2 separate regions of the Homo sapiens genome follow, and region 1 is linked to region 2. A link means that fine-mapping ties the variant in region 2 to the expression of a gene that starts in the linked region. Tissue or cell type: blood mononuclear cells. Region 2 holds a variant in brackets; the other region holds the start of a gene. All regions are shown on one strand. Distances are between the middles of the regions.

Region 1 (15,883 bases), 20 kb after region 2:
TGCTATTCCCTCTTGCTAGAATGCCTTTTCCCCACCTGGTGAACTGCTGGTTCTAACTTCCAAGATTCAGTTCAAGCATTTTCTTTCTTGTGAAGTCTTCATCTATCTTCCATATGAAAATATTCATACCCTCCTTTCCTCCCACAGCATTTGTGCACACTCTCATCAACATGTTTATGACACTGCTTTATAATCATCTGTTTGCGTTCCTTGTCAATACCAGACTCTGCGCTCCTTGAGGTGAGGACGGCCCCCAACACTGACGTCACTGCCTGAGACAAGGAATGAACAGACTCTTTTAGGGGAAGTTGTCCAAGCTTAGTGGCAAAATGGAACCTTCTCCTAAACTTATCAAAAAAAGTCCACACAGATTTATGATTCTTTTGTTACTCATTCAACATATCAAGTGTCTTTATCTCCTTTCCTCTGGAGAACCAGTTCTGTGAAAGTAAAATAATTGTTTTAAAAAAGTACAAATCCAAAATAAGATAAAGTAGAGTAGGTAAGAAAACTCTTGGAACTGTAGCTTGAGCTCAGAAAACTCTTGGAACTGTAGCTTGAGCTCAGAAAACTCCTGGAACTGTAGCTTGAGCTCAGAAAACTCCTGGAACTGTAGCTTGAGCACAGAAAATGTATCTGCTGGACAGCTGTGTAAGAATGGAGGTCTAGCACCTTGTTTTAACTTTTGATAACATGGGGAATATATAAAGTAGGTTGACATTACCTGTGATTCAAACATTAGCTGTCAAATTTGCCTTACCACACTGTAAGTTTCTCACATATGTCTGGCTTTGTCTGGTAATTTTGCGTTGAATTCATTAAGAAACAATATCAAGTCTGTAGCAAAAGCTAATTTCCAAAGCCATTCGTGTTCAGTAATAGTGGCTGGGGGCAGCTCGTTTAGAAAAACTTCAGTCTCAACTGTGAACTCAAAGACTGCAAAACTTTACAGCTAGCAAGCTATCTAATGGCTCTGTCACAAGAGACATCAGGATATCCGGCCTCTATTTCTGATAATTCACAGAAATGATGACGGTTATATCCACAAGAGCAAATGAAGCTCATGGTTTATATTGCCGGTTCAATAACACATGTGAGATTCCAATATTTTCCACAAAATATCTGAAAAGGAATACTATAATAAATAACCATGAGCTTTAAACACCTCGCATGTTCACAAGTTTTGTGAATTTGCTCAACTCCGCCTTTTTCTACTCACAAATATTTTTACTACTGTCAATTTTTATAGATCTTAGCAGATTCCATTCCAGGTTATACTCAATCATTATTTTCTCAGCTTCTTCGAAAACATCCTCGCCTGTAGTTGTTTTATACAGATGATTCAGAGGCTAACTCTTCAGTCACTTCAAACTTGGCAATGATCATCTAATAAATATCAACAACTGATCAGTTATCGGTATGTTGACAGTCAAGAAAAATCACTCAAAAATCACATGCTTTGTTCTTTAATTGATATTGATGTTCTTCCCAAAGTCCAGGACAAGGGTTCTCAATGACATGTAAAATAATTTCATTTTCCCTGGACACAATACTTCTGCTACTACAATCGAATACAATTTAGGTAATCCACCATTGGTAAATGGCTTTCCTTATTTTGCTAATAAATGAGCTACTTAGAGACTTATAGGGGTTGCAACTTAATTTTACTTTGTAAAATTTGTAAATAAGTTCTGCTGTGAGGAGATACTCCGCTTTACATTTTCTTGTTTATCTGACCATTGTTTTCCTATGAGTTGGGAATACTGTGATGGGTACTTAACCCAAGTGCTTAATTTTATGATCATGTTGTGGACTTAAGACCCTGCTCCATTAGTGACTTGTAGAAAGTTACACAGCTGGTGACAGAATCAGAGTCAATGGCTTTCCCTGTTCTATCAAACAGCTTCCCACAGAGATAATAAAACCAATGCCTCAATTTAATTCCTAACAGAATAATCTGCGCGTAGTTCAGGGCTTCTGGTGATCACTAGAATCAACTCGGCAAATTAAGTGAAACGTAATGACTCCTATCCCTTCCTAATAATGACATTTGCACGCCCTGGGTTCCAAAGCCAAAATAAACATCAAATTACAGGCACATTTCTTACTAGACAACTGTGAGCAAAGTTGAAAATGCTCTGTCTAGTATTAGGAGAGAATGTGACCTGCCCCAGAGGTAAGAACTAAAGAGCAAGCTAGCAACAATACATGTGGAGTGAGTCTGAGGTTGATAACGACTCTTGGTAGCAATAAACAAACGTGAAATTGGCATAGAACCTGGCTGCAAGGAAATAGGATAAGTGTGACAGAAAATAAGAAAGTTGGCAGCTATGAGACTACAGTATTTCAGGGGCTCACATGGCATGAACGCCTAAGTCGTTTATGCAAAAAGGTTAGTTTTAGGGGTAGGGTGGAAAAAAGAGCTACTTCCTCCCCCTCAAAAAAGAATTCTACAGGGAGACACAGCTTCAAAACCCACGAGTAGCCCTAAAACAGAATTATAATGAACTTACTTAATGTTATTTAAAGTTCCTTACTATCCCCAAGTTTATAAACAGTTTAATAACAGACAACTCTATTAAGGCAGGTAAAAACTTAAATAGATGATAGGTAAAGATTAGAAACAGATGATAAGAAGAGAGATTATGTGGTCTGGATGGTATACTATGTACACCCTATCACAGGAAACAAAATCCAACTTAGAATCAATTCTCTCTAACCCTCTCCCCACAGTACCTCTCTTTCTCTCTCTCTCCCTGCCCTTCCCTACCTTTCTCCCTGCCCCTCAGTGGTCTCCTAAGAGTGAAGATAAGTGGTAAAAATCTGATATTTCAATGCATTTGAAACTCTCTGGGCCAGGCATGGTGGCTCATGCCTGTAATTCCAGCACCTTGGGAGGCTGAGGTGGGTGGATCACCTGAGGTCAGGACTTCAAGACCAGCCTGGCCAACATGGCGAAATCCCCGTTACTACTAACAATGCAAAAATTAGCTGGGTGGCATGTGCCTGTAATCCTAGGTACTCGGAAGGCTGAGGTAGGAGAATTGCCTGAAGCCGGGAGGTGGAAGTTGCAGTGAGACGAGATAGTGTGACTGCACTCCAGCCTGGGAGACAGAGCAAGACTCCATCTCAGAAAAAAAAAAAAAACAAAAAACTCTCTGGAAAGTGCTTTTAAAAGACTGTTTGGGTCAGAAAATTCTCTAATTTTTCTGGTTATTTGATAGAAACTTAAGCCTCTTTGAATGTCCTCCCCATTCATTAAGAGAAATTAATTACAGAGCTACTGAACACAACATTCTAAAAAAAACACAAAAATATAAAGAGAACATTAAGGTCTCAATGAAAGCGCCATACCCTTAAAAAATGGCATAACTTGTACAGCTCCTTAAAATATTTGAGCCCGAAAGAATTAGGAGACCCTCAATGAAATAATGTATGCTTCTAATAGTGAATTTTAAAAGTCCAGAAAGCCCTTGTGTGCTTGTCTTATTGAAATACTCAGAAAGAGACAATGAAGGATAATCTAAAATTACATACCTCATGTCAGTTTTCATACCCACCAGAAGCCAAACAACTCTAGCCAGACAATTTTTCATTCATTCAATTCTTGAATTCATCAACAACTATTTTGCAGACAAGTTTTTCCTATAATGTCCTCTTATGTACAACTCAGCAGAAACACTGAATACAAAGAGGCATGTTTCCTACGTGTACAAGAATTCACATGAGCTTGAAAATGTTTTCACTTGTCTTCTGGGCTTTGATGGGATGGCATCCTATTAAGCTACTGATATTTAGGTCAAAGGAATGTGAATAAACCCTCCATGAGAGGAAGGACCTCATCTATCTCATTGGCTGACGCATTCCCAGCGTTTAGGAGTCTGGCACATAGTAGGCAAGCAGTATTTGTTGAATAAGTGAATGGATTACACCTGTGTGTTCCCTCTTTGGGAGAAGTAGGGAAAAGCAGATGAAGTGCAATAAATTCCTAGGCCAGATGGGGTCTATGAGATTTCTGGCAACTGCGTGAAAATCATTGCTAAAGCTGATTCAATAGCTAATGTCAACAATGTTGACATACGCTGTTAACTAGTATGAGAAGCTGATGCATAAAAATGAGTTTACAAGTTTACTTTGGCAATTAATTACTAAGCCATTACGTTTCATCTTCGCACATCTTATGAAGTGGGTCAGATTTATTACGCAGAGCAGCCATCTCTCCCCTCTAGTTCCTTTCCTGCCAATCACACTTAGCCTACCGCAAGCTGTTTTCTGCCCCCAACACTGCTCCAGTCGAGGTGACCAATGACCTCCAGTTGCCCAACATCATAATACCACTGACATCTCAATAATATTCAACATAGTTAACCTGTCCCAGTCTCTTCCCTGAGCTTCCTGTTCCACTTACTCTCCTATTTTTTTGTTTTTGTTTTCTGTGACGAAGTTTCGCTCATTGTCCAGGCTGGAGTGCAATGGCAGGATCTTGGCTCACTGCAACCTCTCCCTCCCAGGTTCAAGCAATTCTCCCGCCTCAGCCTCCTGAGTAGCTGGGACTACAGGCGTGAGCCACTATGCCCAGCTAATTTTTGTATTTTTAGTAGAGACAGGGTTTCTCCATGTTGGCCAGGCTAGTCTCAAACTCCTGACCTCACGTGATCTGCCCACCTTGGCCTCCCAAAGTGCTGGGATTACAGGCATGAGCCACCGCGCCCGGCCTGTCCTGTTTTAACTTTGGCAATTTCTCCTCTTCTTGACACATACATGTGCAAGTTACTTAGCCTTTGCCTAGTTCTCTTTTCTTCTCTTTCTCTATCCTATTTCTAGGTAAGTTCATCTGCTCCAAGGGCTTCAAATATAATATCATTATGCCAGTGACTCTCAGTGTCTCTCTTCTGAGTGCCAGTCCGAGTGGCCTGCTGGATGCCTCTCTGCCACCTGAAATTTAACATACACCCCAAATGAAAACGATCCTCATTCTTTAGCCCCCAAGCTTTCCCCTCCCCATGTTTCCTGGAACGGATGCCACCATTCGCCCAGCGAAGCACTTCAGCAATGTGCAGGTCACGCTGACACCTCACTCCCTCATCCTCACCCAACGATTCCTTCAGCTCATTCGCCCTCCTGATTTTTTTCTAGAACATCTACTTCTCTCCCTCACCCCTGGCGCCACCATCCTTCAACGCACCCTGTTTTCTTTTCTGGACTAGTCTCCTCATATCTACCCTTGCTGACCTCCAATCCAGACTCATCTTTTTAAAGTGAAAATGTTATCTTGTCTAAAACCATCTAATGGCCTCCCATTGGCTGGTTCCAGATCCTCCCATTTTTTAGGATAAATTTCTGAATCCTTAATAAGAGTCTACAGAACCCTGGATGATGTCATCTGGCGCTATCTCTCCAGACATTTCTTGTGCCACTGTCTTCACCATCATCTCTTAATAGACTCCTAAAAAATTCAATAATGAAGAATAACTCAGGAGGACCTTCACATAGGAATATTGTGAAAAGCCTCAAAAACAAACACACAAAAAATCCTTACAGATGTTCTAAATCAAATGACTTGTTTCCAATTTAAAGCTGCTTCTCATTATTCATATTTATTGAAAGTACTTTTGAAATATCTTTTGTTACCATGAGGCTATAGTTTATCATATAATGACTCCAGTTGAAAAACTGCTTATTCTTCTCAGAGAATGAAGTCACTAAACTTCTGTAAGGTTCTAAAGGTCCTTCAGTGCATGGATCCCAGGATTTTCCAGGCCAGTAAAAAAAAATTAATGAGGCCTTGGCACAGGAGGGTCCAAATTTTTATTCTGCCAAATGGAGATGTTAAAACAAAACAAATTCCATGCACATAACATCTACCTCTGCCGTTATTTTTAAGAACACGTTTGCAACAATGAAAACTTGAAGTCCATACAATCAGAGTAAAGATTAACATTCTAAATTAATAATTTTAGTTTTGCATTCTTATTTTTCCAGTTTCATTGAAAACCTGTGAAAACAGCTTCCCAAAGTGACACCAGTGGCCAGACTAGACTTTGATAATCGCTGTTCTAGATAAGAACTATTATATCCATTGAGAGGTTGTTAATTCTTCTTCTGAAAATAGCTATCAAAATACTTTTGCTAGAATAAATAAAGCTATTGAGAAAGAAGAAAAAACAGCCTCCAACACCTGAAACTGCTCTGAGTCCCACAGCTATCTCTCAATATTATTACAAGCCGATCTGACACTCACAGCCAGGTAAGCTCTGTTTTCCTCCTGGACATCAACAATCCCACAGATACCTACGTCGGATAAGATTATTCTGAGACATGACACACCAAGACAAAGCAATGCCACTTGAAGATTTTCTCTAAGAACAGACAAAAACAAGGGCACCTGCAACGCACAAAACACCAAACATCCCCTTCTCGTGCTAAACAGAATGGCTGTTCCTTCTTTACTCAGTCAGAATTGCCCCACCTTCTAACAGCATTCTATCTACAGCAAAGCCCGGTTCCTCAGTCTTACCCCAAATCATGCAACCGAAGTTCAAATTCTGTAATGGGTTTTTTTCTATAACCTACCGTCCGTCGCTCATGGTGTGTGGTCTCCTTTGCCTCAAAGAACACTAAACCCAATTTGTTCAGCTTATGGTGTGTTCCTGGTGGTCTTTCAATGAAGGGCCCTGACAGTATCAAAGTATCAAAGTCTCTCCCAATTCCCATAAAACCAACTACCGTCAAGCAAATTAATTCCCTACCCACAATGGAGCAATTTTATTTTAAGGCCTTTAATCGTGTCCACATACATGTTCTGTGTATTTTCCTATTACAGGAAAAACTGTATATACTATTCTGGATTCTACTTTTATCTGCTGAACATTATATCAATTTTAATGGCTAAATCATATCCCACCATGATTTTAAAGAATTTCTCCTTACAGGTATAAAAGAAGACAATGCACATCTTGCTTCCACTTTCAATAACCTACCTAAACTATTCAAGACCATCACCATCTAGCCTCAGGCCAGATGCGCCAGGTTCCTACTTATCCGATTCTGTTGGCAAAGACAAACGCAGTCTGATTGCTTTATAAAGAAATGAATTATGAAAGAGTACTGGGCGTCAAGAGGCTCGGACGTTACGCATGTTCAGTAAACAACAGTGTAACCTCTGGCTAAATATTTTCTCACTCTAGGTCTACTTCCTCTTCTGTAAAATGAAAGAGTCACGCTCGTCCCTCACTGTCTCTTGCAGTTAGGAAGTCCGTAGCCCTGTGACTTGCTCGTGGGAAAGAGCCACGGGACAGGCGATCCCATGACTTGGGTGCAAAAGGCCACAGGGGGCCCTTTGGGGCCTGCTCTGGGCTGCTCGCACCGCCCAAGCTTGGGACCACTCAGCGTTTCCCACGGCCCTGCAGTATCCTGGGCTGAACTCCTGAACTTCTTCGGGAGAAAGCACCTGACCATCAGGCAGTCTGTCCTTGATTGAGTAATGCACACAGGTCCACCGGAACATTTTATTTAAACACTTCAAAATGCAAGGGCCTGGAACTGGTTATTCAAGTACACTCACTCAAATCTAAGAATGTGCGAATCACACCCAGGTATCCTGCAGAGACTAGGATTTCCTTTAAAGGAGTTCTAGTTGCAGGTAGCACCGAATCTACCGAGGACGGGGTTCGCCAGCCCGCTCTGCACCCACACCCCTGTGCACGAAACCACAGACCCCCGTAAAGAAGCTGCCCAGCACGAGGTGTTCCTTGTACCCGCTCGCGCCGCCACACCTGCGCCTCCATCCGCGCCCGCACCTGCACGCCCCTCTCTGCGCCTCGGCTCAAGCTCACTCACCGGCGGCGCGTGCTGCGCGACGGCACAGCTGACGGCGGCAGCCAGGAGGACTAAGGCGACGCAACTCCGGCCCGGCATCGCTCTAGCAGCCAACGCCACTCCCCGGACTCCAGCAGAGGCAAAGAAGAGCCGGCTGGGCCGGGGGCAGGCCACGCCCCCTCCGCCGCGTGACCCGCGACCTGGGACCGCACCATTCCAGGCAGTAGGGGGAACGCTCGGAGGAGGCGGGACTGGGAGGAGAGGACGGGGCTTTTCAGTGCCACGAAAAGGGTGGCGTAGAGAAAGAGAGAGAGCCTTCCAGGCTACCTGCAGAAGGAGAGTCGCGATCGCCTTTGGCGCGTGGCGTGATCCATCCCCCTCCCCCACCGCGGGCAATAGTCGGACCGAGCCGGAGCCCCGCCCCGTAGGTGGGGCCGGGAGCTTCACCCGTGGCGCCTCGATGGGGCGCCTCTAGCAGGCGGGTGCAGCCTGTCCCGCGTACCCAGGCGTCCTCGGTACCCACGAAACGGATCCAAAGAGTCTCAACACTAATGTAACATCCCACCCTGACCCATCTTTGCCCTCTGAGAAAAGCGGCCCGAAATGAGTTGAGTTATTCATCCCCACCGCGGAGTCAGGGACAAGGAGCAGTTGAGTGGCCGAGGAGTGAGAGAGAATCGAATCCACTCGGGTCCTCCAAGCTGTTGGTTACCCACTTGGGCTTTCACAGCAAAGCTGCCAAATCCCAGAATTGAGGCCTCGGTGAAAAGCGCGCTGAGACTTGGGTAGGAGGCCCGGTGGGACCCGCGAGCTTTCTCTCCCAGCCCGATGCAGCAGTTCATTAAGCGGCTGTGTTTCCTCCTAACTGGCGAAGGACTCAGGTGGGCGGAGCAGAGCTCAGCTTGGGAGGAGGCGGACGCGAGTAGCTCGGCAGGGGGACTCGCTTGGCTTTCGTGCCATCCGTGGACACAGTCGCGCGGGTAGGTGACCGGGTTGGATTTCAAAGTCCAGCAGGAAATCCTGCCCTCTGGGTTGCACTTCCTGGATGAGCCTCTGACGTCTCAAGCAGCATTGTTTTAATGCTTTGATGAAGCTCAGCACGCTGCCGAAATCTCGGCAGTATTTTTTCTTTTCTTTTTGCATGTGAGAGAAAGGACAACAAATTGCAGTTTTATCCATTTGTATTATTTCTTTAGAAAACTCAACACTCTTTTTGTTGGAGGTGGGGAAATGAGAAGGTGATGTTTTGTTTTGCTTTTTTTCCTATTTTTTTTTTTTAAAGGAGGAGAAGATGACAGTGTTCTCCCTAAGGATGAAGTTTGACTTTTGAAACATATCACATGCTTAAAGCACATTTGAGCTCCTGCATGAACAGTAAGCTAGCAGATGGTAGAAATATTCTTTATTAATTCAAAAAATATTTACTGCGGACCTACAATGTGCCAAGCATGTCTCCTGACACTGGGGATAAGCAGTGAACAACAACAAAAAGACAAACTTCTTCCACCCTGAGGCGTATGTTCTCGGTGAGAAATGGGCAATAAACATAATACCTAAGAAAATTATACGGGATGTTAGTGACAAATGCAGTGGAGGAAAAGGGAGGCCAGGGGCATCAAGTGTGGAGATCAGAAGTGGTAGAGTTACAATTTTAAATAAGAGGGACAGATAGACATGATTAAGGAGGTGAAGTTTGAGCAGACAGTTGAGGGAGACCAGGAAGCTAGTTTTGTGTGTGCCCAAGTAAGAGTATTCTAGGCAGAGACAGCAGCTGTTAAAAGGCTTTAAATGGAGAATGTGCCTGGCATGTTCAATTACAGCAGACGTGTGTGGGTCTGGCACAGAAAGAACAAGGGGAAAAGAAGAAAGAAGTATTAATAGACAAAGTATTTAGTTAAGGAGAGCAGGGCAAATTCTGTAAGGCATTCAGAGCCATTTCACTCCGGAAAAAAAATGTGTAATATTGAATATACGTGTTAAATGTTGAATCTATGGAATTACCTTGGAGCTTAAAATGAGTGTGCGAAGAAGAGGATTCCCATCTTTTAGTTGTTATTACTAAATCAAATAGCTACTTGATTGGAAGATCATTCATCTTCAGTACTCTTGAGAGCGATTTAAACATGTCACCAAGCATATTTTTTTCCCTACTGGAGGATGTTAATTGGTGATTAGGTAGTCTAGCAAAATCAGATTCTTTATGGAAAAAATTTGTCAATTGACATACTATTCTTAGGCACCACTTTCGCAGAACTATGCGTCTAACTTTCAAAGGTCTATTATATATTATTAATACTCTTTTCAGATAAAATATAAATCTAGTTCCCTAAAATTAAACCATTTCATGCATGTCTTTTTTTTCTTACACATATATCTTTATTTTGCCTACACCATTCTTTAATACTAGAAATGTACAGAAAGTCAAGGCAAGGTGTGTGTAGGAGACTTTGCAGTGGTTTTTGGCATACTGATCTGTTCATAGAAAATGGTATTTAAATGTGCAAATGCATGATTATGTCCACGGAAAGGGTGGTTCATACTGCACAAAAGCATCAAGTTTAAGACTTGGATAACCTGTTTCGTGTGCAAGAGTCGGGATATGTAATCAGATTGTTTATGGAATAGCTGAAGTTCTTGGCAAGCTGTGGACTTCCTCATCTCCTACCTAACATTCCTAGGTTCCTGAGGTGGAGCCTTGATTTAAAAGGGTTGCAACTTAGCCACCCCACCCTAAATGAAACCTATCATGTATAACATCACATTACCTGGAACAGGTTTGACTTGATTTAGTAAAACCGAATATACAAAAACGTGTACTAAAAGGTCAAGAGATAGAGAAATAATGTTTCAGTTTGAGAAATAAACATTTTTTTAACTTTAAATATTGACTTTTTTATGAATAAGGAAGCTTTTTATTTTACAGGTCTTTGTGGGAAGAAACAAATCACAAAAGCAATTAAGAGAGCTCAAACAATGGGTAAGAAAGAGCACCTCAACAACTGTATTGAGCTAGCTGAAATTTTGCTCATTATGCTTTGTCAAGAACTTTAATTATCTCTTTACAGGGTTTATGCCAGTTACATACAAGGATCCTGCATATTTCAGGGACCCTAAAGTTTATAACATCAGATATCCGGAATAAATTCCATCACATTACCACCAGTAAACTTATTTTATAGTAAGTGGTTGTATGACGCCAATACTGACTCAAACCAACCTTTGGATAGAAAAGTGTTTCAGGAGTGAGGTAAAGAATGACACTTCCCCTTCATACCAATCAGTGTTCATTAAGCAGATCGCTTATTTAAAATGTTAACACTCATCACATTTTACATATGTTGAATGAAAGTGGTTCTGGGTGATAGTCATTTATATCTGGTCCACAAATAGCTCATACAATGTAGTACACCATTCAACTGAATGGAGTTAAAACTGCTCAGAATGGTTTTCTAACTAGCAAATGTAAGTATGCCTGGTTAAGAGATCTTCCCTTTGTAGGAATGTTACACTGGGATGCATAGTGATGCTGTCACAGCAGGACAAAACATTCCTAGACAACTCTATCCTCAAACCAGTAGTGTCTTTTACATAAAAAGATGATTTACACCTAATAGACAGTGAATGTGATAGACATGTATGTATATATGTATCAGTTCTGAGTTCCACCAGCCTATCCCAAACACACTGGATTACCAGGCTTGTACTGTACTCAAAATTAAGGATTTGCTAAATTTCGTGCAAAGGACTCTAAACTAGGGGAGAGATTATTGTTTGTGTTGCGTTATAGTTGTGTAATAATTAAGGCTGCCAGATTTAGCAAGTACAAATGTAGGACAAATTTAAATTTTAGATCATGTTTTGCAAAGGTACTGCGTGAGATCCAGCATTTTATCTGGCAACACTAGCTGTAATGTACTTCTAAAAAATTATCACCTAAGGATAATTTTAATGACTCAGATAAATTTCATATAAATTTCTTTCCACATTGTGAAAATAAGGCTATTCTAGCTTTTCTAATACTTTTTTTTTTTTTTTAATAGAGATGGGTCTCACTGTGTTGCCCAGGCTGGTCTCTAACTCCTGGCCTCAATCATTCCTGCCTTGTCTTCCCTAAGTGCTGGGATTACAGCTGTGAGCCACTGTGCCTGGCCTCACTTTTCCAATTCTAAAGAATGTGTGTAAGCCTTTCCCTCAACAACTTATTGAAAGGCGAAAAAAGGTTTGGAAATAAAAGGATCTGATGTTTGAAAAAGTACTTTGTAAAATAAATGCACTAAGACTTATCTGTGGATTACTGCAAAGAGGTGAATATAGTAAAAACAAATGAACTTACCTGTATTACTGCAAGTAGCTCAACCTAGTAAAAACAATGGAAATGTTTGACTTTACCCATCAGCCAAATTAAAAAAATCTCCTTTTAAGGTTAAAAGGATCAAAATGTAGGTGACCGTGAATATTCACCAAAACCTTCATCTTTTCAATCTCTTCATCTGTTTCTGGGCTGCTCATTTTGGATGCTTTTTTATTGGTTACTACTATCAGTATCTGTTTTAGATGGTTTGTCTTGTGTGTCTAACAGCCGTGAACACTCTTTTTTTTTTTTTTTTTTCTCCTGAGTCGAAGTATTCCTCTGTAGCCCAGGCTGGAGTGCAGTGGCAGGATCTCAGCTCACTGCAAGCTCCGCCTTCTGGGTTCACACCATTCTCCTGCCTCAGCCTCCCAAGCAGCTGGGACTACAGGCACCTGCCACCACGCCGGGCTAATTTTTTGTATTTTAATAGAGACAGGGTTTCACCATGTTAGCCAGGATGGTCTCTGTCTCCTGACCTCCTGATCCGCCCACCTTGGCCTCCCAAAGTGCTGGGATTATAGTCGTGAGCCACCGCGCCCAGCCAATTTTTTTGTATTAGAGATGGGGTTTCACTGTGTTAGCCAGGATGGTCTCGATCTCCTGACCTCGTGATCCGTCCGCCGTCATCTCTTGAACTGCCATCTGTCAGCTAAGTCTAAGGTTTTATGCTTAACCATTTGTGGTGTACTAGCTGGACTAGCTTCAGGAATGTCAGTGTTTTCTACCATTAAGGTCAGATTGTCTACTACATCGAGATGGTGGTGGTTGTTAGAGCTACCTTTAGAAACATGTCTGTTTTTTTAAAGACATAACACATGCATGAAGAATTCAGAATCTGGAAAAAAGGTCCATAATGTTTGACAAAGAAAAATGTTCTCCTGAGGGTCTTTTTTGGATGCTCTTCTCTCGTTCTGCTGGAATCTGGGCTCATCTCCTTTTTTCAATTTCTCGTTTTAATCTGTTTACATCCTTTACTAGTTTATCTACTGCTTGTTCACTGTCTTCCACTTTTTTGCATATACTCTTTAATTTCTCTTACAATGAAGCATACATTTCATTTATCTTATGTACCTCCTTTAAGGATCCATCTTCTTCAAAAAATTTAGAGCTGTGTGTTTGTACTGCTCGGCTAAAACCAGTGGACATACAGGAACCTGATACAGTTTTATAACCTAGTTGTTCAGACATGCCCAGATTGGCAACCACTGAAGGTACCCTGTGAAAAAGTCCTTTTCGAGGTTTATATAAGGCATGTTCCAGTCGATGAGTAGAGCGGCTTTCTGTTATTATACTTGGTGTTCATAGCAGAAAAACCAGGTCTTGGTTTGAAAAATGCTCCTGCAAGTTTTTGTGAAGCAGCCTCTCTCTAAATGTCATGATCTGATCTGAATGACGATGGAATTTGTAACAACCTACCACATTTTTTGTGAATTTGATAATATTTTCCTCAGTGCCTGCTTATTTACTTCACCTGAAGAATTATAAAAACTAAAAAACTGATAGCATGGAATATATTTCTGAATGTCAATTGTATAAACAACTTCAGCATCATCTATTTGGGAATCAGTAATGCTATTCTTTTTTTTTTTTTTTTGAGATGGAGTCTAGCTCTGTCACCCAAGTTGGAGTGAGGTGGCCCGATCTTGGCTCACTGCAACCTCTGCCTCCCGGATTCAAGCAATTTTCCTGCCTCAGCCTCCCAAGTAGCTGGGATTACAGGCGCCCACCACCATGCCCAGCTAATTTTTTGTATTTTTAGTAGAGACGAGGTTTCACCATGTCAGCCAGGCTGGTCTCGAACTCCTGACCTCAGGTGATCCACCCGCCTCAGCCTCCCAAAGTGCTGGGGTTACAGGCGTGAGCCACCATGCTTGGCCTTGTCTTCTCCCTTCTAATATGAAAGAGGAAGCTAGGAATCCCCATTGCTGCTGGCATGCATGCTATAAACCTGAAGGGAGCCACCTAAGATGAAATTGATACTGTGGACTACACAGTAGAAAGATGGAAAGAAACTGGGTCATTGATGACATTGTCAAGATGCTAGATCAACCAACCACAGATCCTGTCCAACAACTGGACTCTTGATTTACATCAGCCACTACTCTGTTATTGAATCTTGGACAAGTTGGTTTGCTTACAAGTTAAATTATTGTATCTGAGAGCATCCTAACTGATACACACATGAAAATAGACATTTCTCCTTTGTTGAGAAGGATGTACAACAAATCTATGAACTTTAAGTTTTAGTACCTTCACTTGCTCATGCCCCTTCCCAACCTTTTACTAAATTTTATGCTTGTAATTTTGTATTCTTTTCCTTAAGGAGGACCACTTAAATTGCATAAGATTCAGGTGTCACCAAACCTGGATCTAGCATCAGATGTTGTTGGAAGAAAATGTCCACCTTTCTCTGCCGTCTCCTCCATTCATGTCTCCCTAGGGAAGGAGAGATGTATGATGTATCTAATCAGTAAATAGTTGAAAAGGTCACAGAACGTGCGTGGCCTGGCCTCTCTTCTGGCGCTTTCATTCAGATCTGCCTCCCCACAGTAGTAGATATGCCTGCCCACACTGGTAATTCTACTGCAGCAAGCCTTGAATGACAACAGTGGACGTGAAAGTAGTTGCTGCCTTTGACCACATCTTCCCAAAGTGGCACGTCACCAACAGACTTTAAAATCATGACGTTATAACGTAATGGCTGTGAAGATTTGGAAGAAAGCACTCTAAAATGAGAGCTCTGAGAGATGTAGAGAGAAGGCAGTCAAGGAATAGCGCCTATAAGCACCTCCTGCACATCCGGTCCCTGCGCCTCCATCCTCACCCTGCCCTCAGCTCACTCCCCTCCTGTTAGAAATTGGCTGTGCCCCTGAAAAGTCATTTGCATTTGCCTAAAGACTGAGTACACAAGCTCATTCCAAAGTAGAAGGTGTTGAAGTTCCATTTTGGCCTCAGGTCAAAATTGTTTTCTCTATTTCAGCTTAATGAGCAAGAAAGCAGAATCTAATATGTGTATATTTCTAACGCCTGTGTATATTTCTCAACTGTTTCCCAGCTCAGAAAGGTGAGGAGTATGACAGTCACCCTGAAATGACAACAGAAGCCAACAATAACAATTATAGTAATAATGTGTGTATAGAAAGTACTAAATGACCATTAAATGAAGAGCAGATTACTAGGTGCTATGGAAGATACACATGCAGTGAAATACAAATTCCAGATCTCAGGGAGTTTGCAACCGAAAAAGAATATAACACTAATATATATACAAGGGGACTTCAAAACGTTCACCTGCACCCTCCACCTCCCAGGTTCAAAGATGGAGTTAAAGGATAAAAAGTATAAACTTTATTTCTTTTTTTTTTTTTTTTTGTGAGATGGAGTCTCCCTCTGTCGCCCAGGCTGGAGTGCAGTGGTGCAATCTCGGCTCACTGCAAGCTCCCCCTCCCAGGTTCACGCCATTCTCCTGCCTCAGCCTCCTGTCATAAGCACCATCAAGGTCAAGACACTTTTGTCAGGGATGATACCAGCCATTTAGTCCATCCTTAAAAAAAAGAGGGTCCTGGGAATTTAACCATGTCAATGCAGTCTTTATTAACTGAAGAAAAATGGGTGCCCTTTACAGATTTTTTAAGATTAGGAAACAAAAAGAAGTCAGAAAGATTTCCTGTGGAAGCTCTTGCAAAATTGCCCTTGTTTGATGAGAGGAATGGG
Region 2 (11,394 bases):
CAAATATACATATAACATTTAAAATACCTTGTTGAGGACAGGTTTTGTTGACAGGACATCATACATGGTTTCAAATGAGATATTCTAAAACACAAGAAAATAGTTTTGTTCAGTAAGTTAAATACAGAAGCCAACAGCCTTATCTACACACATGGGCCACCAGAAACCAAGACATTCTTTAATCAACCTCCCCTCCATCCCCGCAGTGGAGTTTCTGTGGGAGTCACTGTTAGAAACACAGGTAACAGTTTTAATGGATTACTTTCCTCTCTCTCCTTCCCCTTTTTTAAATTCTTGCCTGTTTGTTATTCAACTTCAGAGTGGTATCCAGCATTAGAACCAGAAAAGGAAAGTACAGCACAATTTTGCTCTTTAAGTTAAGAAAACGAAACAAAAAAATCAGTGGAGAGTGGCTAGAGATACTATGAAAAATAGGACGTTTATAAATTACTTGAAGGCCAAAGAAAAATGCCAGAACCAAGGGAATCTTTAATGGCAACAGTTTCTTTCTATAGATGACCCTGCAAAGGTACCTCTTGGCTGGTGCGGTTCAGACACATCTTTGCAGGCGTTCTGCGATCATCAAGGAAGAAGGGATGTTTCCAACGGTCATAATTTGTTTGTACCACATACCATCTACCCTGCTTAGCATCGAGTCTAGATACAAAAGGAGAGATTCCCTCTTAGGCTACATGCCTTAAAACTCAAAGTATATCAGTGTATGCTTTTGTTTCTACTTCTTTTGCTTTAACAAACCTACTTACTCATATACATCCAATGATTCCTTTCTGTCTCGTGTAATCACACAACCTTCCCCAGACTGGTTGCCTCCCAGGATAAAGTAGGCTGGGGCCAATATCTTGGTCTTGGTCAATAAATTCTTGGCTTCTTCATAACTATATAGAAACATTTAAAAAGAAAAATGAAACTTTTTTTTAATTTTAGTAAATAACTTCATTTATTTTTAAATTTTACTTTAAGTTCTGGGACACATGTGCTGAACGTGCAGGTTTGTTACATAGGTACACACGTGCCATGGTGGTTTGCTGCACCCATCAACCCATCATCTAAGTTTCAAGCCCTACATGCATTAGGTATTTGTCCTAATGCTCTCCCTCCCCTTTCACCCCACCCCCTGACAGGCCCTGGTGCGTGATGTTCCCCTCCCTGTGTTCACGTGTTCTCTTTGTTCAGCTCTCACTTATGAGTGAGAACATGCAGTGTTCGGTTTTCTGTTCCTGTGTTAGTTTGCTGAGGATGATGGTGGGAAACATTTTTAGATGACTTAGAACGGAAATGTTTAGCTCTGTAGAAACTAAAGAAAAACAAGTATCTAAGGAATGTGTTATTTATTTATTTCTATTTTTAGAGATGGGCTCTCACTCTGTTGCCCAGGCTGGTCTCGAACTCCTTGGCACAAGCGATACTCTTGCCTTCGCCTCCCAAAGTACTGGGATTACAGGCATGAGCCACCATGGCCAGCCACAATGTGTTTTCTAAAAAAGGATGGTGAGCAATGCCTCTGGGAAAAGCAATCCCTGACCCTGTATGGTGAACACTGAGATGGGAAGCGGGAATCTTAGGAAGCCCCTCTAATCTGAAGGAGAAACAAAGTGGCCTCAAGAGATCATCTTCCACCCTTACTGTCCATGCCTTTCACTCAACAACAGAACAAAGGGAAATAATATTACAGTATGTAGGACTTAGAGAACAGAAAGTAAACCTTCTTGAAAATTAGGACTATTAAAAATTGAAGTGGGTTATCAAAGAACACTACTAACATTAAATCTTATTCCCTGGGAAGTATTAAAAATAGGATTGATGCCCATTTATTTGGACGCAGTGCTGGCTGAATGAAGGAAAGGCAGTTTTGCTATTGTAAGATTTCTATACCAAGGCAAGATATAACTTACAGGTTAATATGTAGTACATTTTGTATTTATTTATTTTGTTTTTTTAAGACAGAGTCTCACTCTATCACTCAGGGTGAAGTGCAGTGGACTGATCCCAGCTCACTGCAGTCTCGACCTCCTTGGGCTCAGGTGATCCTCCCACCTCAGCCTCCTGAGTAGCTGGGACTACAGGCAGGCACGTGTCACCATGCCTGGCTAATTTTTGTATTTTTTATAGAGACGGGGTTTCGCCATGTTGCTCAGACTGGTCTCAAACCCCTGGGTGCAAGTCATCTGTCTATCTCAGCCACCCAAAGCGTGAGGATTACAGGCATAAGCCACTGTGCCTGGTCTGTACTACCATTTAAATGAAGATTTTACTGTATGACTGTTCTTTTGTGTGTGGGTCATTTTTTTTCTGTACACCAAAAATATTCATAGGTGCCTTTCATAATGTCAGTATCCCTAGTGCTTTTTAAGTAATTCATTTATTTGCTATAAAACACACAGTCTGCACGAAGAAAACATGAGTAATTCCACATGAGTGTCAGAGGTTCACCTAAGAAATTCTGCAATAGTTCCTCAAAGGATTAAGCTGGAGCTTGACAAATATTTTTATTTTTTAATATGAGTAATTTAAAATAAATATTTAATAGTAAAGCAACGAAACACTTTACCTTGTGCTATTTTCCAGAACTGTTCTAGTGAGGAACCCTATCCACATGACATCTTTCTTTCCCAGAATCCATTCTAGAATACCTGGAAGAGATGAACACAATGTCAGGAACCGGAAGAGGTGACACTATGTAACCAGTCAGGACCCGGAAGAGGCTGGACTATATAACCAGTCAGGAACCAGAAGAGGTTAGACTTTGTAACCAGTCGGGAACCGGAAGAGGTTGGACTTTGTAACCAGAAGGCACAGTCCAGCCTTCCTCATAAAAAAGCTCTGAGATTCCCATTTCACTTGAGAATGCTCTACTTACCCAGATAACCACCATTTATACTGAAACGTTCATTCAGTGTAAGACTGAACAGTCCCTGAGAAAAAGACAAAGCAACGAAGTCAGAAACATCAACCATGCGCTTTAAGGCCCTGTCGCTCACTGTACTTCAGAGTGGGATATAAAGGCCTAGCTTGGGTAATGGGGAAGGCAAAAATAAATCAAAACCATAAAAGGCTTTTTAAAAAGTTCAAAGCATTTTTGATTCTAGTATGTGAGATAAGTAGGTGGGGTATCACTGGCAACGCTTTTTGGACAGGAAACTGAAGGGCAGAGAATGAACGCCTGACTTGCCTAAGTGAGCGGAAGACCCAGGACTAGAAATCAGATTGTGACTCCCAGCCCTTGACACCCAGCCACATGCTCTTTATCCCAGAAGAGGCTCAGAAACCTCCGTTTCCTTTCTACTCTTCTCTACCACGAGATCTCATACCTATGAAGTGACAAGAAGTACAAGGGGGTGAAATGGGGCTTCATATTCCCTTTAGGTCCTCATATTCTTAGATTTCAACTTTTACATAACGGTAACAGGACAGAAGGCTACCTGTATAATTATGTAACAACAGACTCCTTACTGGTTTGAATCCTGTTAACATGCCCACATAGCCAGCAAAGCTTGAAGCCTTGAAGACAGTTTTGTTGTTTCTTTGGAAATCCAAATTCACTGTTAAAGGTTTTAGTTGCTCAGTTATGACCCAGGTATCATTATTTATGTTCCACCTATAAAAGACATGTTTCAGTGACATTTCAGAAACACAGTGATAGTAATGATCAACATGATGATGAGGGCCAGGCATTACACTAGGAGCTTTATTTACCGAGTCACCACGATCAATCCTAACAAGACCTTTACAATATGGTATATTTATTCTGTTTTCCAAATGATAAAATTGAGGTTCAGAGAAGTCAGGTAACTCTCTCAATATCACACAGCTTATAAATAGTGAGCCTCAGATTCAAACATAGAATGCTAATTACAATATTCTTATTTTTTCAGAAAGGTCAAGATGGACACATAAAATAGAAGAGCATGTCCCTCTTGTCTCAGCACTCAAGCAATCCATTTATCTTCACTTATGATCACATTTTGGGTGTGACTTGGGACTTACTTATCATCAATATAACACAACCTACTCTTCCTACAGACCAAAACAGTTCTGTGTTCTTTTTTTTTTTTTTTTTTTTGAGATGGAGTCTGGCTCTGTATCCCAAGCTGCAGTGCAGTGGCGCGATCTCGGCTCACTGCAACCTCCGCCTCGCAGGTTCAAAAAAGTCTCTGCCTCAGGCTCCCAAGTAGCCGGGATTACAGATGCCCACCACCATGCCTGGCTAATTTTTATGTTTTTAGTAGAGACGGGGTTTCACCATCTTGGCCAGGCTGGTCTTGAACTCCTGACCTCGTGATCCACCCGTGTCAGCCTCCCAAAAAGCTGGGATTACAGGCGTGAACCACCATGCCTGACCCTTTGTTCTTTACTTACCCAAGAAATACTCCAAAATCCATGTTTCTCCCATGTATTAGATGACCTATTTGAAGGTAGACAGAAGAGACGTGTAATAGCAGTTAAGATTCTAAATCAAAGCTGGACAATTAATTTTGATTAATT[A/T]ATTTATTTTTGAGACAGAGTCTCGTTCTGTTGGCCAGACTGGAGTGCAGTGGTGCGATCTCAGCTCACTGCGACCTCTGCCTCCCAGGTTCAAGCAATTCTTGTGCCTCAGCCTTCCACGTAGTTGGGATTACAGACATGTGCGACCGCACCTGGCTACTTTTTTTTTTTTTTTGTATTTTTCTTTTAGTAGAGAAGGGGTTTTACCATGTTGGCCAGTCTGGTGTCAAACTCCCAACCTCAGATGATTCGCCCGCCTCGGCCTCGCAAAGTGCTGGCATTACAGGTGTAAGCCACTGTGCCTGGCCTCTAATTTTGATTAATTTTTATTCACAACTGTTTCTTCAAACAATAAGAAGTAAGAAACATCCTAATATCCTAAGCCTTCACCAGATGGGACTGTTGTCACCGTCTATCTGCCAGATAACCCCACAAAATCTGAGAGCACGGGTTTCCAGGTAAGATCAGAATATGGGAAAAGGAATCAATGGTCATGTTTTGGTTCACTATCACATGGTTCTACCAGGACACAGAAATCGGAGCCTCAATTACTGTGATTCATCAAATGTTTCCCTTCAGGCATCATCCCCTAGAGCAGGACATCTCAAGGGTAAGGTACAGGCAGATTTATACCCAGAGTATAGGTCAAAGATCAGGGTGAGTTAGCGAAGTTGTCCTGTGCTTTGTACTCTGGGAACCAGTCAGGAAAAATACGGGAAAGTGAGGCTGGTATCCATTGGGTTGCCTGGCTGGGAAAGGATGGGAGAATGTGTGTTCTGGGCCTCAAGAAAAGGACAGATGTCATGACATACACGAAGATAAGGAAGCACCTCCTGCGAGCACTTCCATCAAAGCATGTAGATGGGTAGAAGTAAACTATGAGGAAGAGAAGAATGTTTCTAGCCCTGCAACATTTCTTCCAGGTTTTTTGCATGTCTGAAATCAACTTTAATAGGCAGTACAGTAGTCTGAAAATAAGGAAAATTTTCAGTACAATCACAAAATTTTACCAAGAAATAAAAAGCTGTATGCAACATACACAGAATTTACATAGCAAGCCCAAATTTCAGAAGTTCTAATTTCATTTAGAAGATTTTTCTTTATGTAGTGCTTCATGCTGCCCACCCTCCCTCAGCGCACAATTACCTTTTTTGTCTTCTGCTACTATTGAAGTACAAATGGTAAATAATTCATAAAAAATATTGAATGAAATAATCTCTCCTATGAGAAAAGAAAATTTTGTGTTAATATACAGAACCATGACAATGGGAGAAAAATTTGTTTTAAGAAAAAGTTTCAGTGTTTTCATTGTGTGAGTGTGTGCTTTGGCCAGTGGGGCTGTGCTGGAACGGCCGGCTGGAGGTGGTTTTCTTCCCCAGCCTGGACTCTCTAGACTCAAGATGAAACAAGTCACCAAGGAGGCAGCCTTCGGGCGAGCTGAACATCTGGGCAGGTTGCAATTGTTCTCCAACATCACATCCAAAATGTTTATCAACATGCTTCATTTTGAATTTTCTTTTGGGAGCGTAAATATGATCATTTAATACATCTGGCTCTTGGCTGTTTGCTGGACATATATTTTGCCCAGATTTTTAAAGTGTGACTAAAATTTCTAAGGTGAAAAAGGAGATTCAAGAACTATTAAAATTAGTACAGAGCTGCCAAGAAACTCCATTCTAGGGTATTTTATTTTTTGAATATTTTCCCAAAATGTATAATACTGCTATTTAGCATTTAATTCAAAAGTAGGCAGCACATTGTATTTCTGTCCCATTTAACATTAACATGTTAAGCTCAACATGTTTTTTTCACCCAAATCCAATGTGTATTTTATTTCCATTAAATTTCTAATTTGGTGAAATTCTAGTTATTTTATTATACATTTATAATAATTTATAATAATTATATAAATTTACACCACTTATACATCATGTTATTCTTCTTAATCCATAAGGTATTTCTATTTGGTATTGAGTTGCTAGAGTTCTTTACATAATAAAGGAATTAGACTTGCTTTCCATAAAGGCAGCAAGTACATATTTCCAGTATGCTATCTTTTAAATGAGTTTTTTAAAGAAGCAGCACACAAAACTAGCCACTTTTGTTGATAAATACTACTGATTTTCACAAATTCTCAATCATCTCATAAAATGAAGGTACTGTTGGCTATTTAAAATAATGACACTACTGCTTTGCTAGCTTAAAGATAAAACTTTTGGGGTCGTGGGGAAAATATTTTTCGTTACATGCCATAAAGCTTAAATTGAAATTTTAAAAATAGCTTCCCAAACCATCAATATCTAAGAATAATTTTAACGAATGGCATGTGAGGTCTTCTCCCTGAAAATAAAAGATACTGCTCAGAGAAATCAGTAACTTAAATAAATATTGAGAAAAACAAAGTTGGAAGAATTATACCACCTAATTTGAAGACTTACTATAAAGCTTTAGTAACTGAGGTGAAATAGTATTGATATAAGGGAAGACAAAAAGACAAATATGTAAATGAAACTTAATTCCCCAAACAAAACAACATATATACAATCACCTGATTGTATATACAGATACACATTGTGTGTGTGTGTGTGTGTGTGTGTGTGTATATATATATGTATTGTATATTTATATCAAAGACACCACTGCAATTTGCTGAGGAAAGGATAGCCTTTTGAATTGATGCTGTTTAACTAACTGGATATACCACATGAGAAAAACCTGAAGCTTGACCCATAAGTCATAGCATATACAAAAATAATTCAAAATAGATGATAGGCCTAAATGTAAAAAGTAAACATTAAACATCTAGAAGAAAATATATAAGCATATATATATGACTTTGGGGTAGGCCAAGATTCCTTAAATGGATACAAAAGGCACTACTCATAAAAGAGAAGACTGAGATATTAGACTTCACTAAAATTAAAAATTTCTGTTCATCAAAAGACAAAAGTAAGAGAATAAAAATGAAGGTCATAGACTGGGAGCAGATATTCAGAATCCATATATCTGACAAAGGGCTTATATTCAAAGTATGTAAAAAATTCCTTCAATCTAATTTTTAAAAGGGCAAAAGACCTTCACAAGCCCTTCTCCAAAAGAAACAAAGAAAACCAAAAAAAAAAAAAAAAAGTCAATAAACTGTTCAATCTCATTAATCATCAAGGAAATGCAAATTGAAACTAAAATGCGATACTGCGACACTCAACAAAAAGGCTCAAATAAAGATTGACACTAACAAAAAAAAAGGAAAAAAAAAGACTGACACTATCGAGAGGAGAATTATCAAGAGGAGAAAACTGAAACTCTCATACTCTGCTGATTGTCAACTGCTGGAATCACTTTGGAAAACTGTTTGGCAGAATCTATAAGGCTAAACACACAATTACTCTATAACACAACAGTTCACTTCCTAGGTATATATCCAGAAAATGAGTACCCAGACACCCCCAAAATGTACTACAATATTTATAATTCCTTTATTGTTAATATCACAAATCTGAAAACCACCCAAATACCCTGTTGATACAATAGCACACCACCCATAATGAAATACAAGAAATCACACAGGACAGTTCATATTGTTCAGTTCTATTTATACAAAGTTCACGAAGAGGCAAAACTAATCTATAGTGACATCAGAATAGTGTTTACTGGAGGAGGCAGTATTTTCTGCAAAGGGGCATGATGGAGCATCGTGGAGTGCTGGGCTCTTCCGTATCTTGATCTGAGTCATGGCTACATGCATGCATGCATTTCTGAAGCTTCACTGAGCTGTATATCTAAGACCTGTGCACCTGTGCTGTATATCTAAGACATACAGCACCTGTGCTGTATGTATATCACACCTCAATGGAAACTTGTAAAAGAATTTAATTACTTTTTTTTTTAAAGCTTCTAAGTGAACTTTACCTAAAGGTATATCAGTAACAGCGGCAATACCCTTCATTTCCTCTTCAAAAGGGCCAGGAAAGTTGCCAAGTAGGCCAGGCTGGAAAACAAATATATTAATAAAAGCATTTAACATAATAACAATAAAAAATATATAATATAATATAAACAAATATAATAAAAGCATGCTTTGAAATCTAGTTCTTGGACATATAATTTTTTCTAGATACTGCTATCATAATAAGTGATAGGAATTATTTTTTAAAGCATTTTTACATCATGTAGTTATAAAAAGATTCTATGTAATACTGAATATTGGGCCCCTATACAGAGACCAGATTCTCAGATTGTTTTTCCTGCCTTATTTTTCCATCATTCTCCAGAGAAGGCAGGAACGAGAGTAATTCCACTTGGATGACCTAACCTGACCCACACCACAAAAACATCATAACAAGCACTCCTTATCTCTCTGCACGAATTCACCCTCTAGCCACTGGCATATACCGTTCTTACCATTTCCTTCCCACACTCACAGAGATAAACCTGCACTATTCTATCCATAGCCCTGTGTCATGGTTAATGGCTGATCTTCAGCTAAGATGAAGTAACTGCATTCTTTTAGCAAACCAGAGACATTGAGCAAATTCAGTGGTGGACATCATATATTTATTCTCAATGGCAACTACTAACATCCAGATCACAACTTAAGTTCACGGCCTTTTGCTGAGATAATCTGCTTAAAATTCACGAATCTCACTTTTTTAACCAACTTGGTAATTACATGTAATGTCACCTAAACATATTTTTTTTCTCCCTAGGAACTCAAAGCATTCCCCAAGTGGAATGTTCCAGCCATTTAACAAACAAATGTGACGTAATGGGTATTTATTAAACACTTATTACATCCAAGCACTATGCTTTATACACAGTATGTCATTTAACCCTTACAACCACCATATGAAATATATATTAGTAATTATTATTCTCCCTGATGAGAAAACTGAGGTTTCATAGGTTAAGAAACTTTCCCTAGGACACAAGGCTAGTATGTGACTGATCCAGCCTTAAAACCCAGTATTGTCCGATTCCAAGGCGTGGCACAAAAACTCTCTGCAATGTTGCCCTCCCTGATAACATTCAGAGTAGAGGGGAGATTAAGGCATACGGGGAACGTGGGGGCCTCATCCTCTTTTGCTCCTGCCAGCATTTTTTTGTTTTGAGGAAGTCCGGTAAGTATGAACATAAAGGATAGCCTGAAACAAAAGCTCCGAGAGCATGCACGTGAGGGATAATGGGTTTGGTGCTTGGCAGGTACAAGTGTCATAGGGAGGATGTGGCCACAGCACTCAGCCGCTAGGGCAATGATTCTCGACCACGGGAGATTTGGTAACATCTAAGGACATTTTTGGTTGTCACAACTGAGGGGGTGTTACCAGCATCCAGTGGGTAAGGGCCAGGGACACTGCTAAACATCCTGCAATGCACATGACAGCCCCACAAAAAAGAGACACCCACCCCAGGCCGGGCATCCTGAGCTGCTAAACATCCTGCAATGCACATGACAGCCCCACAAAAAAGAGACACCCACCCCAGGCCGGGCATCCTGGAATGTAGACAAGCCCACGACAAAGAAATATCCAACCCAGGCCGGGCATGGCGGTTCACACCTACGATCCCAACACTTTGGGAGAACACTTTGGGAGGTTGAGGCGGGAAGATCGCCTGAGCCCAGGAGTTGGGAGACCAGCCTGGGTGACACAGCAAGCCTCCGTCTCTACTAAAAATTCAGAAAAGTAGCTGGGTGTGGCGGCACGTGACTGTAGTCCCAGCTACTCAGGAGGCTGAGGCAGAAGGATCCCTTGAGCCTGGGAGATCAAGGCAGCTGTGAGCTATGATCATGCCAGTGCACTCCAGCCTGGGCTACAGAGTGAGATGAGGTCTCAAAAAAAAAAAAAAAAAAAAAGCTGCCCAACCCCAAATGTCATTAATGCCCAAAATCTGCCATCAAGAGCAATGAGGATCCCTTTAACAGTTCTAGGGGCCAGGCCCTAGGTGTTTCATTGGTTCTGCGTCAACAAAAACGGGGCTGAGAAATGGAGTCTTCCTGCATGATGAGGATGAAAATGAAATGGTTTGGTGATTGCACAGAAACACTCAGCCCAAATGAGTTTCAGGGTCAGAGCTACTGAGGAACTCTACAGAATAAGGGGCCAGGCTGAGTATGTCATTTGCTCATATCTACAAAAAAAAAATCTCTGGATGTCCCTGAGACACTTAAGAAAAAAAACCAAGTCTTCAATAGTGAACTCACTACATAAAGGGAAGGAAATACCACACTCCCAGATGAAATATGGTTATTTGCCCAATGTCGTAATGTAGTCCCATCCCCTTTTACGAAACCATAATTTGCTATGCTGTAACCCTAATATTACCAATTCCCCAAATTTAAGTCCCTCTGAAGTTCTGACAGTGAGCTAGATTCATGCAGATTTGCCCAAGTCCCTGCGAAGAGGTTGCTGAATTATGCCTTTAAATAAATAACAGCGCATTTTCTATGTGCTTAACATTTATTGTGAGAAATAATATCTCTTACCAATTTTTCATCCACCACCTGCATAATTTTTCCACTTGGCACGAATGTATTTATCATATTCTTCAGAGAATTCACTATAACCTTTAGCTGAAAAATAAATAAAATGCTTACTAAAAGACATAATGAAATGCTGTCAAGATTACCTTTTGGCTTACCCATATGTAGCTAAAAGAGAGTGCTATTTGACAATTTATATATATATTTTTTAAAACAGCATCTCGCTCTGTCACCCAGGCTGGAGTGCAGTAGCACCATCTCGGCTCACTGCAATCTCTGCCTCCCAGGTTCAAGCGATTCTCCTGCCTCAGCCTCCCAAGTAGCTGAGATTACAAGTGTGCATCACCATTCCCAGCTAATTTTTGTATTTTTTTTTTTAAGACGGAGTTTTGCTCTTGTCGCCCAGGCCGGAG

What was found. PIP is the estimated chance that this variant, and not a neighbour inherited with it, causes the effect.
Region 1: it holds the start of ASAH1, and the variant in region 2 is fine-mapped to the expression of ASAH1 in blood mononuclear cells (TOPMed, PIP 0.99).

The regions. Positions count from the first base shown.
Region 1 is chr8:18,076,142-18,092,024 of GRCh38, forward strand. It overlaps ASAH1 (N-acylsphingosine amidohydrolase 1), which reads right to left and starts at 7,966. Exons shown (of 14, transcript NM_177924.5): 1 at 7,840-7,966. The coding sequence starts at 7,917. ASAH1-AS1 (ASAH1 antisense RNA 1) reads left to right here and starts at 8,727. Exons shown (of 5, transcript NR_125429.1): 1 at 8,727-8,798; 2 at 9,101-9,344; 3 at 10,742-10,795; 4 at 10,884-10,996. It also overlaps the pseudogene MRPS18CP3 and the pseudogene ABRAXAS1P2. RefSeq lists enhancers at 7,423-7,532, 8,333-8,612, 8,413-8,948 and a silencer at 7,883-8,082.
Region 2 is chr8:18,058,808-18,070,201 of GRCh38, forward strand. It overlaps ASAH1 (N-acylsphingosine amidohydrolase 1), which reads right to left. Exons shown (of 14, transcript NM_177924.5): 4 at 10,985-11,071; 5 at 8,413-8,491; 6 at 5,650-5,724; 7 at 4,378-4,423; 8 at 3,472-3,616; 9 at 2,879-2,933; 10 at 2,570-2,651; 11 at 765-896; 12 at 534-657; 13 at 28-84. Among named protein-coding and RNA genes, the nearest start is that of ASAH1, 20 kb to the right of the region's middle. The variant A/T (reference allele first, on the strand shown) is at 4,504.